4 linked regions of the Homo sapiens genome follow. The protein of the gene in region 4 purifies or fractionates together with the protein of the main gene of each other region. This does not show direct contact. Each region holds a gene or a part of one and is shown on either strand. Other genes may lie near its edges.

What was found. Proteins that work in one complex are often made in the same cells at the same time.
Region 1: the proteins of SLC8A2 (region 4) and MYO1D purify together in Homo sapiens (affinity purification with mass spectrometry; one large-scale study listed by BioGRID and IntAct). This does not show direct contact.
Region 2: the proteins of SLC8A2 (region 4) and MYH10 purify together in Homo sapiens (affinity purification with mass spectrometry; one large-scale study listed by BioGRID and IntAct). This does not show direct contact.
Region 3: the proteins of SLC8A2 (region 4) and MYO5A purify together in Homo sapiens (affinity purification with mass spectrometry; one large-scale study listed by BioGRID and IntAct). This does not show direct contact.

Annotation. Positions count from the first base shown.
Region 1 is NC_000017.11:32,755,125-32,758,624, reverse strand, and holds part of MYO1D (unconventional myosin-Id), read left to right. Parts: intron 1-2,962; coding exon 2,963-3,133; intron 3,134-3,500. UniProt on the Homo sapiens protein: Unconventional myosin that functions as actin-based motor protein with ATPase activity. Plays a role in endosomal protein trafficking, and especially in the transfer of cargo proteins from early to recycling endosomes.
Region 2 is NC_000017.11:8,508,726-8,512,225, reverse strand, and holds part of MYH10 (myosin-10), read left to right. Parts: intron 1-1,040; exon of another isoform or gene 1,041-1,100; intron 1,101-2,276; coding exon 2,277-2,414; intron 2,415-3,137; exon of another isoform or gene 3,138-3,475; intron 3,476-3,500. UniProt on the Homo sapiens protein: Cellular myosin that appears to play a role in cytokinesis, cell shape, and specialized functions such as secretion and capping. Involved with LARP6 in the stabilization of type I collagen mRNAs for CO1A1 and CO1A2.
Region 3 is NC_000015.10:52,518,881-52,522,380, reverse strand, and holds part of MYO5A (unconventional myosin-Va), read left to right. Parts: intron 1-3,500. UniProt on the Homo sapiens protein: Processive actin-based motor that can move in large steps approximating the 36-nm pseudo-repeat of the actin filament. Can hydrolyze ATP in the presence of actin, which is essential for its function as a motor protein. Involved in melanosome transport.
Region 4 is NC_000019.10:47,458,394-47,461,893, reverse strand, and holds part of SLC8A2 (sodium/calcium exchanger 2 precursor), read left to right. Parts: intron 1-3,500. UniProt on the Homo sapiens protein: Mediates the electrogenic exchange of Ca(2+) against Na(+) ions across the cell membrane, and thereby contributes to the regulation of cytoplasmic Ca(2+) levels and Ca(2+)-dependent cellular processes.

The sequences.
Region 1 (3,500 bases), on a different chromosome or scaffold from region 4:
CAGTTGATTGCCAGTCTTATGCCATCTGTACTATACCCACCTACTCCCAGATTATTTTGAAGCAAATTTCAGATATCACATTATTTCATCTATTCAATTGGGTATCTATTCAGTAAATATTTCCATGTATTTCTCTAAGAGAGTTTTACAAAAACCATAATCACAATGCCATTATCATACCTAAAACATTAACAAAAATTCCTTAATATCATAAAATATCCAGTCAGTATACATGTTTCATATTTCCTTAATTGTCTTCTGGTTGTTGTTTTGCAGGTTAAATTTGGATCCAAATAAGTTTCTTACATTATGATTGATTGATAGGTCTCTTGCATATCTATAGATTTTCTCCATGTTTCTTTTTTTCCTTGAATGATCTCTCTTTGCAATCTTGTGTTGAAGAGAATGAGTCATTTGTTATGGAGTTCCCCACAGTCTGGATTTTGCTAATTGCATTCCTCAGGTGCCATTTAATATGTTTCTCTGTTTCTTGTATGTCCTGTATATTGGTTGTTAGATCTAGAGTCTTGACTGGATTCAGAGTCAGTTTTTTTCCACAGCCCATTTCATAGACTGTGTGTGAACTTCCACCAGGAGGTTCATAATGTCTGGTTATCTGGTACATTCACTTTTAAAAGCTTTCGATGCTGTAGTTTGCAAATCATTTTAACTATTGAGAACTTGATACTCAAGCACAAAGCTGTTTTATCTGGAGTGGGTATGAAAGGCCAGAGCCCCATGTCCCTAAGCTACCCCATCACAAGTCTTCTGGCTCCTGGTATCCCTTAGGAAACCTTACGGGAATGCCAAGTTGCTGGAAGAACTTAGTTTGAAAACTACTGGTTTAAGCAATGTTTGAAGCAGTATTAAACTTACAAACTGAAAGTTACTAGCAGAGACCAATAGCTTTTAATAATATAATTGGGATTTTAGGGAAGGTAATTCTTTAGTCCCTGGGACAAAAGACTTCGTCTTTAATTTCACAGTCCCGAAGTCTAAGATGTCAACTATTAATATAGAGCTCCTGCTTTTTGAGTATTTTTAGGATTTTTTTTCCAAAGATGGAAATAACTTTTCTCCCTAATTAGAAATGTAATAAATGCCCATAATGAAAGTAAATATTTAGACCTACACTGCTTCACCTCAGTACTACTGAGATTTTGTGCCAGATAGTTCTTTGTTGTGGAGGCTGTTCTATGCATTGTAGGATGTTTAGCAGCACCCCTGGCCTCTACCCACCAAATGACAGTAGCACCCCTACCCCATTTTGACTAGAAATGTCTCCTGATATTGCCAAATGTCCCCTGGTGAGCAAAATTCCCCCTATTCCCCTATTTGAGAAACTTTAGTTTAGACAGATCAGAAAAGTATAAAAAACAAAGTAAAAACTACCCAGTTTACAGGTTTCAGTCCATAAGATACAGAAGAGAACATGCAAGACTAGAAATGGAGCTAAAAGCCATGTACAAATAACTGGCATAAAACCTTGGATTTTAAAGCATGAAATGGGAATACATGAGTCACTTGAATGGTCTATTATGAGTATATAGACCTTATAGAAGGTAATGGAGACAGCAATCAGTTTAGGTAACTCCTGCGTAAGATGGGACATAGCAAGATTAAACTGTGTGATCATAAGCTGCCCCTCTTTGAGATGTGCAGCTTGCCTGAGTTGGCCTTTCTTTGTGTGCCTTCTGTGTGTAGTGATAGGTACATTGCAGGCTGTCAGAATAAACAGGTGTGGCAGAGGATTGTTGGACAAACCTTGTACATGTATAGTTGCTGAAAAGCCAGAAGTTATTTATAACTTCATTCACCTTGTGGAAGTAAAGGAAAAGCTTTTTCTTATCTTTTATAGATATTTATTTCTCAGAATTAAATTCTTTATATTATGCCTAGAAAAATGTAAAAATTCTACTGAATTTTTTCAAATTGTTCAAAATTCTATTGAAGCTTTTTAACTTTGGGGAAACCAAAAGAAATGCTCTTTTGGATTTTAGTCATTCAGGGTCATGTAACTAAAAATGCAAGTTCTTTTTTTTTTTTTTCCGTTTTAAGTGGAGTTTATTTAACACTAAGAGATAAAGGGTTGTTAACAAACACAATGACAAATGGACATCTGATTGGGATGAGGCATTATCCTGTACACATAATGTTGATATTTTTGTGTACCCTCAGTGCATGGCATTTACACATAGAGCCACTACTGCACAGCACAAGAGTATCTGAAGAGGCTGAATCAGAGTAAGGCTGTTTAAAAGACTGAAATTTTTTAGTATATATATTCTGCATGAAAACAGAACTTTTGAACTGGCAGGTAGAAGGCAACTCTGCCAAACACTACAGTTAAAGCCCCCACTTTAGTGCACAGTTCCACCCCTTCCATCTGCATGCGTGACACATTAACAGTATTTAAAGGTAAACGAGGCACTTTGTGGCAACTGCAGCCATCGTTATGAACATATTGCACAAAATTTCTAGAACTAAACATTTAACTTGTACCCTACTTTTATAAAATTGCAAGTTTTGTGTAGTACCTTAACTTTATTATGAAGTAGTATATCAGATAATACTTTAAGGTTATTTGTTGGCCCTTTGTGGAAGGTGGACCTTACAGTTAATGGCAGGCAGATTGGTATGAAGGAGTAGGGTTGGGTGTGGGATCTGGAGGCAGGATTAAAATGAGTTTGTAATGGGAGAAATGGTGTCTACCTTATTATCTTTGCCTTGGGCTGTACTAATCTCAGACGGTGTATTTCATGATAGAAAGTTAACAAAGAAATTTAAAAATAAACCTCTGTTAGAATGTGTACTCTTTTTAGCGTAAGACCTCTTTAATGTTATTCACACATTTGACACCAAAGTAGTTTTACCTGAACTCCTGATACAAATGGGAGCATCAGGGTTTAACCTGGCCTGGTCACTGTTCTCTTCAGAATTCCCTCCTTGCTGTGTCCTACAGATTGACTACTTCAACAATCAGATCATTGTTGACCTCGTGGAGCAACAGCACAAAGGGATCATTGCAATCCTTGATGATGCTTGCATGAATGTCGGCAAAGTCACCGATGAAATGTTTCTTGAAGCACTTAACAGTAAATTGGGCAAACACGCCCATTTTTCCAGCCGAAAGGTAATGTGTTTAATGACACCTTCTTCCTTTTATCTGTGAGGTTCTCCTTATTGTTTGATGGAGTTCAACGACTTTATATGTTGGGATAAAAGAATGTCCCCTTTAATAAGAAAGAAAAGTCATAAACATTCATTAAATGATTTGTTGCTGTGGATAAATTCTGCCTCTCTGGTTTATAGTATGAAGAAATTGATAAAATCATGTTAATCCAGGAGAGGGAGCTCCAGACTATGCAATTTGGTAGAAACAGGAAAAATGAGCATGATTCTTTAGAAAGCATGATGTCATTTGTAACCAATAGATGTAGAGTCCTTGCTCATGTGCTAGAATTTTACTCCTGCATCTGATAATTCTGGCATGGAAAATA
Region 2 (3,500 bases), on a different chromosome or scaffold from region 4:
AAGTGGCATCTTACAGTTTGCAAAGAGATTCACAGTCGCAAACCTCCCAGGATCTATAGCATTCTGTAGAAGACCTAACTTGTTCTTCATGTTGTCAGTGATTCTGTTGCTCACTCCATTCATTAGATAGACATCTACTACGTGGTTTGGCTAATAAGAAACGCTCAGCACTGACATAGGAGGTGGCCAACAGTCAGAATGAGAATTTTTAAAAATTAGCCCTTCCCTGGTACTTAACTTTCTTTTTGAAATACAGGCTGTACTCATGAGGCACAATTTTTGGATTGTGATTGAAACAGACAAATGTGCTTTTTAAATGGTCTTTATATTTTAGAGGTACAGCCTGAAGGTTTTACAAGTGAAATATGATGTCTGGGATTTGCTTCAAAATAACCTAGGGGGAGAAGGGAGCAGGTGGAGGCACACATGAAATGGAATTGACCATGAGTTGATGCTTGTTAAGGTCAAGGTGATGCTTCTGTGTGGGGCTTATTATGCTGGTCTGTGTGCTTGTATGTGTGTTTGAAATTTTTACAAGAAAACACTCATTTTTTGCCATGGTTTCATTCTAAAATTAACGATGAGTAAATTATTTAGCCGAAGTTACTCTTGAACATTTCCTTAAGTTGGCCATGTGTTGATTTGTACAACCCTAGTTTTGGTTTTTTGGGGTTTGTTTTTGTTTTTGTTTTTTTGTTCTGTTTTTGAGACGGAGTCTCGCTTTGTTGCCCAGGCTGGAGTGCAATGGCGCAATCTCGGCTCACTGCAACCTCCACCTCCTCGGTTCAAGTGATTCCCTTGCCTCAGCCTCCCCAGTAGCTGGGATTACAGGCGCCTGCTACCACGCCCAGCTAATTTTTGTATTTTTAGTAGAGACGAGGTTTCACCACGTTGGCCAGGCTGGTCTCGAACTCTTGACCTCAGGTGATCCACCCACCTCGGCCTCCCAAAGTGCTAGGACTACAGGCGTGAGCCACTGCGCCCAGCCTGGGTTTTGTTTTGTTTAACTTTTTTTTTAATTTCGTTTTTTGGAGGGGATGGGAGCTTTCCACCAGAAACCAGAAATCCTGCTAGACAAATTCTAAAAGAGCTGTAACACTTTGTTTTTAATTTTAATTTTTATGCGTATATATTAAGTGTGTGTGTGTGTATGTATGTATGTGTGTATATATATATATATATATATATATATATATATATATATATATATGGGGTACATGAGATGTTTTGATACAGGCATGTAGTGTGTAATAATCACCTCATATAAAATGGGGTAATCTATCTGTGATCCTGTGTAATAGCATGTTTATCATAAACAGTAATGTAGATTATAAAGATCTGCACGTTCTAATAAAAATACATGTAAACTCTATGCTCCCGCCCAGTTTGATGAGGTGCTTCTGCTGTGAAAGGTACACTTGAACTGAGACAGCTCATTTCTCACGACCTGTACTATTTAAATTATTGTTTTCATGTTCTCTTTCTCTCTTCTTTGGCCGAACATGTATATAGTTGGATTCAGCTAAATTAAATACACATTTGATGAGTGCTACTACATTATTCATGTTTGTCTGTGTTGCTATTATTCCAAAATGTGAATTTTAATTACTATATATTATTCCATTTAACAAATGTGCCAACATTTAATTACCAAGACCTTTTTGTAGCATGTTCATAGTTACTCAATATTATAAATAACTTATCACTGTATGTCTTTTTATATAAATTGCATCTGTGACAATTTCCTGAAATTGCTGGTTGAAAGGAAAGGCTCATTTTTAAAGCTATGTTTTGCCATGTTGGCTTCTAGAAGGATTGACCCAGTTTGTACTTTAGCCTGTAGCGGATACAAATGTCTATTTCACATAACTGCATTTCATATTTTTTTAAATATCCTTGGCATTTTGAGAATCAAAAATTAGTATCTAGGCTGAGGCGGATGGATCATGAGGTCAGGAGATCAAGACCATCCTGGCTAACATGGTGAAACCCCATCTCTACCAAAAAAAAAATCAAAAAATTAGCCGGGCGTGGTGGCGGGCACCTGTAGTCCCAGCTACTCGGGAGGCTGAGGCAGGAGAATGGCGTGAACCCAGGAGGTGGAGGTTGCAGCGAGCCGAGGTGGCACCACTGCACTTCAGCCTGGGCAACAGAGCGAGACTCCGTGTCAAAAAAAAAAAAAAAATTAGTATCTCATTGTAATGCATTCCTGTGCACAATGAATGTGTGGTCAAATCTCGAGAAAGTGGCGAGACTGACTGTGTGTTCTTCACAAGGACCTGGAAGAACAGCTAGACGAGGAGGAAGGGGCTCGGCAAAAGCTGCAGCTGGAAAAGGTGACAGCAGAGGCCAAGATCAAGAAGATGGAAGAGGAGATTCTGCTTCTCGAGGACCAAAATTCCAAGTTCATCAAAGTAAGAGAGTGTTCCCACAAAAAGCTGATTTTAGTTACAGAAAATATTTATATAATATTATGTTGATACACTCATTGAAAGTGAACTCAAACAGAAATTTCTCAAGATTTTAGGTTCATTTACTGAATTTTCTCTGTAAGTCTCTACTTGTATAGATTTCTAAAGATACAGGCACCATTGAATTTTTTAAACCTTATCAAATATCCTGATAATCTTTTAGACTTGTAACATGTGCAGTTTGTGCATAATGGTCACTCAATGATGACTTGTCTCCATCTGTGCAAGCATTAATTCATCCACCATTGACTGTGGGACTCTGAATACCAGGCAGCTGGGCCAAGCTCCCGGGGTGGGCACCAAGACGTGTAAGCCTTTCTGCCCTTTTGGAGTACAGTCGTGTGTTGTTTAACGATGAGGACACATTCTGGGAAATGCATTGTGAAGTTATTTTATCCTCGTACAAACATCATAGAGTGTATGGACACAAACTAGATGGTAGAGCCTGCTATACACCTAGACCAGACGCTGGGCTGATTGCATCTAGGCCACACACTTGTACAGCATGTTACTGTCCTGAATACTGTAGGCAGTTGGAACACAGTGCTAATAAGTACTTGTGTATCTAAACATATCCACACAAAAGTCCAGTAAAAATATGATAGAAAAGGTACGGTAAAAATGATAGAAAAGATTTAAAATGGCACACCTCTATTGGGCACTCACCATGAACGGAGCTTGCAGGACTGGAAGCTGCTCTGGGTGAGTCAGTGAGTGAGCGCTGAGTGAATGTGAAGGCCTAGGACATTGCTGTACATGACTGCAGACTTTATCAACATGGCACACTGAGGCTGCAGTACATTTATTTTAAAAATAGAGTAATTGCACTGTGGTGTTATGACAGCTCTCGATGAAGTTTTCAGCTCCATGATCATCTTAGGAGACCACTGTCGTGTATCCGGTTCATCATTGTCCAAAACATCGTTCTGCAGCATGTGATTGTGTACAGTCTGCTGGGGGAGGCAGTGCCGATAGAACTTATTTTCTCTCGAGTCAAAGTTGACCTTTATGAGGAATACAGAACCCAAG
Region 3 (3,500 bases), on a different chromosome or scaffold from region 4:
ACCACCCCACTCCCAATCTTTCATCAACTTTATTGAGGTATAATATACTTGAAAAGTCCCTCATTTTAAGTGTACAGTTTGATGAGTTTTGACACATATATTCTGTCATGTAACCACCGCCACAAACAAGATGCAGAACATTTCCATCACCCCAAAAGTTCCCTTGTGCTTTGTCTCTTATCTTCCCCAACATCTTCAGGGAGTTTACTGGAGTTATGCTTGCTCATTAGGGCAGAAGGAAGTTTTTTCTTTTTGGTTTTTCCGAAATGAATGCTATGGTTCCACCTTAGCCCAACCAATAGAGATACTTATTACAAAGGCCTGGCATTGGAGATCATGGCTGTGGAGTTTCATTTTCAGTGGGAGGCGGAAGTGGATATAAAAGGAGTTTAGATGATTTTTGTTTAATCTTTCCTTCACACACTGACCACTTTGCCTTTATTAATGATGTCTGCCTTTGATGCCTTCTGAAATGCCCTTTGGTTAATTTTGCCCTTTAACGGTTCCTCTTCCCCATCTGTCTTGGTTGTAACATCAGTCTGAGTTTGTGCTGATACAACCTAAACTTTGCAGAAACTTATCCCTGGCTCTTCATGCCTCAGGCATTCTCCATTTCTCTTCTAAGCCCTCCTCACTTGGAATTCTTTTTAACTAGCAGGCATTAGCGTTAAATATCTCCTTGTACAGCAAAGGCTTTTTGCCAATTGTAGAACTTAGGGATGATGTAATTATTTTTTGATTTCAAAATAATGGTTCTAAACTTGATTGAAATCAAGGGAGAAGTGCATTGTACATAATGCACTAAGTGTTCATGAGGACCATGTATCTACCTCCTGTGGCCTAATGTACTACTGTGGCCAAAAATGTGGGCAAGATGCTGGGCTAGAGGGAGACTGGATGCACAAAAAAGATAGGTTTTGTCCATCTTTTGTCACATATACAAAAACATATAGTCCTGGCCAGGAATCCTGCATGTGTGGTTGGGGTTTCTACTTCTTGACAAATGTACATGAAACTAGAGAAATTTCAGAATAGGAGAAGTAAAATGATCAGGGCAGTGAAGAGGCTAGACAGATTAAAGGTGTCGAACTCTCTAGTTTAGAAAGATGAAGGTGAGCTGGGAATACAGTAGAGGTTTTTTTTTTTTTTTTTTGAGACAGAGTCTCGCTCTGTCACCCAGGCTGGAGTGCAGTGGCGTGATCTCAGCTCACTGCAACCTCTGCCTCCTGTGTTCAATCGATTCTTCTGCCTCAGCCTCCCGAGTAGCTGGGACTACAGGCATGTGCCACCACCCCTGGCTAATTTTTGTATTTTTAGTAGCGATGGGGTTTCACAGTACTGGCCAGGCGGGTCTCGAACTCCTGACCATGTGATACGCCTGCCTCGGCCTCCCAAAGTGCTGAGATTACTGGCGTGAACCACTGTGCCCAGCCCTATAGTAGACTCTTTGACATCCAGAATAGTGGAAGTTTGTAACATCAAATCTCAGTTTAGTAGGGATATGTTTTAGATCTTGAAACAAATCAATATATGCCATTTTAAATGAATTTCTACTTTAAACATTTACATTTTACATTTCTGAAACTCATCACTTCAAGTTATGGTATTAGCTGAGGTACAGGATGTAAATAGAGAGGGTCTGGGTAATTTATGGATGAGAGGTTTGGCACATTGACTTACCAAACCTCTCTTTAACAGTGTTAGTCAGTTTACCAGCCACAGCTGTTTTAGTTGGAAGAAACAGAAACCCAAACTCAAAGCCAAAGAGGAGTTTATTTGCTCATGTGACTTAAAAATCTAGGCATGGCTGGAATCAAGGCTCAGACATGGTCATTGGGGCTCTCTTCACTGACTCTCACATGCTGTCTGACATTGGTTTCATCCTGAGGGCAGCTTTTTTTAGGGGTGAAAAGATGGTCAGTGGCACCTGCAGATCACATGATCTTACAGCACTGGGCCTGGAGGAAGAGAGCCTGATAGAGGAATTCTGGTCATGTGCCTTCTCCTTTCATTGGGCCTCTAGGCAGTAGGTGAGGAGCACCATGAGTGGTCAAGTCTGTGCTCACCCCAGAGACCAGGGGGAGGACAGGGCACTGTGATTGATAGTCCTACTCCAACCTCATGGGATGGCTGTGAGCTGTTCGCCATTGGAAGGAAAAGTGCTAGGTAGTCAAAATAAACAACTACCCTCAGTCCATGTATGCTATGAATAGGTCACTGAAAATGATAGTCATGGAATTCTACCCCTCCTTTTCTGATCTTTGAGCAAGAAGAATGGGAAATTTTGCTTGACCGGGGACATTAGGTATCTTTCCCCTAGAGAATCATTTTGGATTGAAAAATAGAAGCCAGGCCAGGTGCGGTGGCTCATGCCTGTAATCCTCAGCACTTTGGGAGGCCAAGGCGGGCGGATCATGAGGTCAGGAGCTTGAGACCAGCTTGGCTAACACGGTGAAACCCTGTCTCTACTAAAAATACAAAAATTAGCCGGGCGTGGTGGCGTGTGCCTGTAATCCCAGCTACTCAGGAGGCCGAGGCAGGAGAATCGCTTGAACCCGGGAAGCAGAGGTTCCAGTGAGTTGAGATCGTGCCGGTGCACTCCAGCCTGGGCGACAAAGCAAGACTCTGTCTCAAAAAAAAAAGCCATGGAGCGTCTGTGCAAGCAAATGTTACTAATAGCATGTTAGAAATTGAAATTTTGAAAATTTATTCAGTCTTCAATTTTGATTTTTCATGTATTATTATTATTATTATTATTATTATTTTTTTTAGACAAGGTCTCGTTCTGTTGCCCACACTAGAGTGCAGTAGCGCAAGCATAGCTCACTGCAGCCTCGAACTCCTGGGCTCAAGCAGCCCTCCCAGCTCAGCCTCCTGAGTAACCGGGACTGTAAGCGCATGCCACCATGCCTGGCTAATTTTTTAATTTTTGTAGAGACAGAGTCTCACTTTGTTTCTCAGACTAGTCTCAAACTTTTGGCTTCAAGCAATCTCCCACTTAATTATCCCAAAAGTGCTGAGATTATAGGCGGGAGCTACCATGCCCGGCCATTATTCAGTCTTAATTTGGGGGCTATGAACCCTATGTCACCTTTCTTACTGATTTCTTTCTACCGTATTTCCTCAGCATTTTATTTCCCCTATTTTCTTCACATCCTTGCTTGCATACGTTATTCTCTTCCCCTATTTTCATACATAGATAAGTTGCACGATTTCTTATTGCACAACAGTAAGAATTGTGCACAATTTCTTTTTGCCTGTCCGTCATTCCTTGTTCATGTCTAGTGGTAGTCTGTCTTCTGTTCTCTTCCTTCCACCTGTTCATCTGCTTTATCCCCCTACTATTTAATTTTATCTACCCACCCCTTATGCCCTGTTATGATTTGTTATAACGAAGTATATATACATCCCACACCTATAATGGAATAAAATAAGTTACTAAAGGGTGAATCTTTTTTTCATAACTTAGATTGAGGAGGGAACTTCATTTTTGTTTTTGC
Region 4 (3,500 bases):
GTGCCCTCCCAGGCTGGACACATTCTTAGTGGGTGCTCTAGAAAGACATTGTGAATCGGCTAGAATCACTTTTTATTGACCTGCAGGGAGGAAGGAAAATCTTAGGGGTTTGGGATTGTCTTCTGATGAATAGAGACTTCCTTGCAATATACATAATGGTAGGTTCAATTAATACAAGGGAGAGAGTTCATTTCACAGCTTGCGCTGAACATTCGGCTCCTTTTCCCAAATCTGCCTGTTGGCTTCATGCAGTTTTACTATTTGCAAGTCTTGACTGTTCTCTGAGCCAGCAGTAAACACAGTGATAGCAGGTGTGGCAACTGGATCTTAGATATTTTTCCTACCAGGCTCATTTTTAAGATACTCTGGGGGCCTTCTTTTTTTCGAGATGGAGTCTCACTCTGTCCCCCAGGCTGGAGTTCAGTGGTGTAATCTCAGCTCACTGCAACCTCCGCCTCCTAGATTCAAGTGATTCTCCTGCCTCAGCCTTCCTAATAGCTGGAATTACAGGCGCACGCCACCACACCTGGCTGATTTTTGTATTTTTAGTAGAGATGGGGTTTCACCATGTTGGCCAGGCTGGCCTTGAACTCCTGAGCTCAAGTGATCCACCCACTTTGGCCTCCCAAAGTGCAGGGATTATAGGCGTGAGCCACTGTGCCTGGCCTTCGGGGGCCTTGTCATCGTAAATACTCTTTTTTTTTTGAAACAGAGTCTCGCTCGGTCGCCAGGCTGGAGTGCAGTGGGGTGATCTCAGCTCACTGCAACCTCCGCCTCCCGGGTTCAAGCGATTCTCCTGCCTCAGCTTCCCAAGTAGCTGGGATTACAGGCGCCTGCCACCACGCCCAGCTAATTTTTGTATTTTTAGTAGAGACGGGGTTTCACCATGTTGGCCCTCGTGATCCACCCACTTCCGCCTCCCAAAGTGCTGGGATTACAGGCATGAGCCACCACGCCTGGCCCATAAATACTCTTTTATCTTTTCTTCTTCATCTTTGATGAGAAAGGTAACATTTGAGTCTTTCCATGAATATCTTCAAGGCAAACCCTCGAGTCTTGGTGGATGCTTTCCATGTGCCAGGCCTGTGCTGGGCCACCAGCAGACTGAGTCTTAGGCCTCTGCAAGCCCAAGATAATAGTACTAAATAATAACGATGGCGATGTTCTTTTTTTTCTTTTTCTTTCTTTTTTTTTTTTAAGATGGAGTCTCATTCTGTCACCCAGGCTGGAGTGCAGTGGCGTGATCTCGGCTCACTGCAACCTCCCCCTCCTGGGCTCAAGCAATTCTCCTGCCTCAGCCTCCCGAGTAACTGGGACTACAGATGCACACCACCATGCCTGGCTAATTTTGTATTTTTGGTAGAGATGGGGTTTCACCATGTTGGCCAGGCTGGTCTCGAACTCCTGGCCTCAGGTGATCCACCCACTTTGGCCTCCCAAAGTGCTGGGATTACAGGCGTGAGCCACCACGCTTGGCCAGGCAATGTTAATTTCACATCTTGAGTCTTTTCCATGTGTCAGAAACTGAGAATGCTGTGCACTAGGAATGCAGGTGCTCATTCAGTCTTGGAAATGTCCCCATTGTATAGACCAAGAGATGAGACAGCCATCCCTGTGGTAAAGCCAGGCTCCCAACTCAGAGCTGCCCTGGCTGTGCATGGGAACTGGTTTTATGAGGCAGAAGAGCCAGATGTGTGTCTCTGTTAGAGACACAGCCTGTCCATGAGGGCCAGGCAAATGCTAAGGAGGCACTGGTAGGGGTCATGGGTGGGGCACTGAGGGCGTTTGGGTGAACAGAGAGCAGGCCCTGGATGATGGGCGAGGTTTGGAGAAGTGGAGGCACCCCCAGGTGATGGGGGAGAAATGGAGCAGGCAGAAAAAAGATGGAGGGAGAGAGAGGCCAGAAGACACACAGGCTCTGTCCCTTGACAGCAGCTGGGACCACAGGGTGGGGATTGTCTGTTGCTTGGTAGTGGATGAGGATGTCCGGGTTCCTGGCACCTGGGCAGCTGGGCATGGTTCTCAGCATCTAAAAGGTGGATAGATGGATGAAGAGACTAGGAGAGAAAGAGAACACATACACACATGTGCGCACACACACACACAGATGGACACACATGCACACACATGCACACAGATGGACACACACGTACACATACACACACAGACGTACACACATGCGCGCACACACAGAAGGACACACCCATGCACACACACACATGCACACACACAGAAGGACACACACACAGATGGACACACGCACATACACATACACACATGCACACACAAGCACGCACACACAGGACACACACACGCACATACACATATACACATGCACATACGCTCACACATGCGCACACACGCGCACGCACGTGCACACACACAGAGATGGGGAGCAAGAGAGAGAGGGAGGGAGAGAGAGAAAAGTAGCTCTGGAGAAACACAGATACTGAGAAAGAGAAAGAAACTCACAAGGGAGGGAAATAGATATCTACCAATAGATACAAAAGAAGGAGATGGAGCCAAGGAGACCGAGGCAACAAGAAAAGAGAGGGAGCCAGGGAGAGAGACAGAGGAGGAGGAAAGGCTAAGAAAACCGCTGAGACAGAGGCAAGGAGGGAAAGAGACAGCAGCACACGCAGAGAGCGATGGAGAGAGGCAGAGACGAACAGGGACAGAGAGAGAGAGAACGAGATGGAGAGAGAGAAATGTGGGGGAGATGGGGAGAGGCCACAGACAAAAAGGGAGGACAGAGTTAAAAAGAGATGGGAGGAAGGGGAGGGAGAGAGATGGGGAGAGGCAGAGGTGAACAGAGATGAGAGGGAAATAGAGAATAAGTGAGGAACAGAGAGACAGAGATGGAGAGGAACGGGAGCAAGGAGAGAGAGAGAAAAGGGGGTGGGGAGAGATAGGGAGAGGCAGAGATGAGCAGAGACAGAGACAGAGGGGGCGAACAGACAGAACAAGATGGAAAGGGGTGGGAGAAAGGAGAGAGAGAGATGGGGAGAGAGAGGTGAACAGAGACAAGAGGGAAATAGAAACTAAGAGAAGGACAAGGGAAAGGAGAGAGAGAAACGGTGACGGGAGAGGGGAAAAAATTAGCTCTGGAGAAACACAGGTATTGAGAGAGAAAAAGAAAGAAACTCACAAGGGAGGGAGATGGAGATCTACCAGGATATAACAGGACATGGAGACACGTCCAGACATGGGGAGAGGCAAGAGCCAAACAGAGACAAAAAGGGAGGGACAGAGATAGAAAGAGATGGGGGGAAGGAGAGAGAGAAATGGGGGGAGAGAGATGGGGAGAGGCAGAGATGAACAGAGACAAGAGGGAGGTTGAGAGAAACTAAGAGAGGGACGGAAAGGAGAGAGAAATGAGGAGGAGAGAAGTGGGGGAGAGGCAGAGATGAACAGAGACAGAACAAGATGGAGAGGGAAAGAGAGAAATGGGGGGAAACGGAGAACTCGGGGGAGAGAGATGGGGAAAGGCAGACATGAAG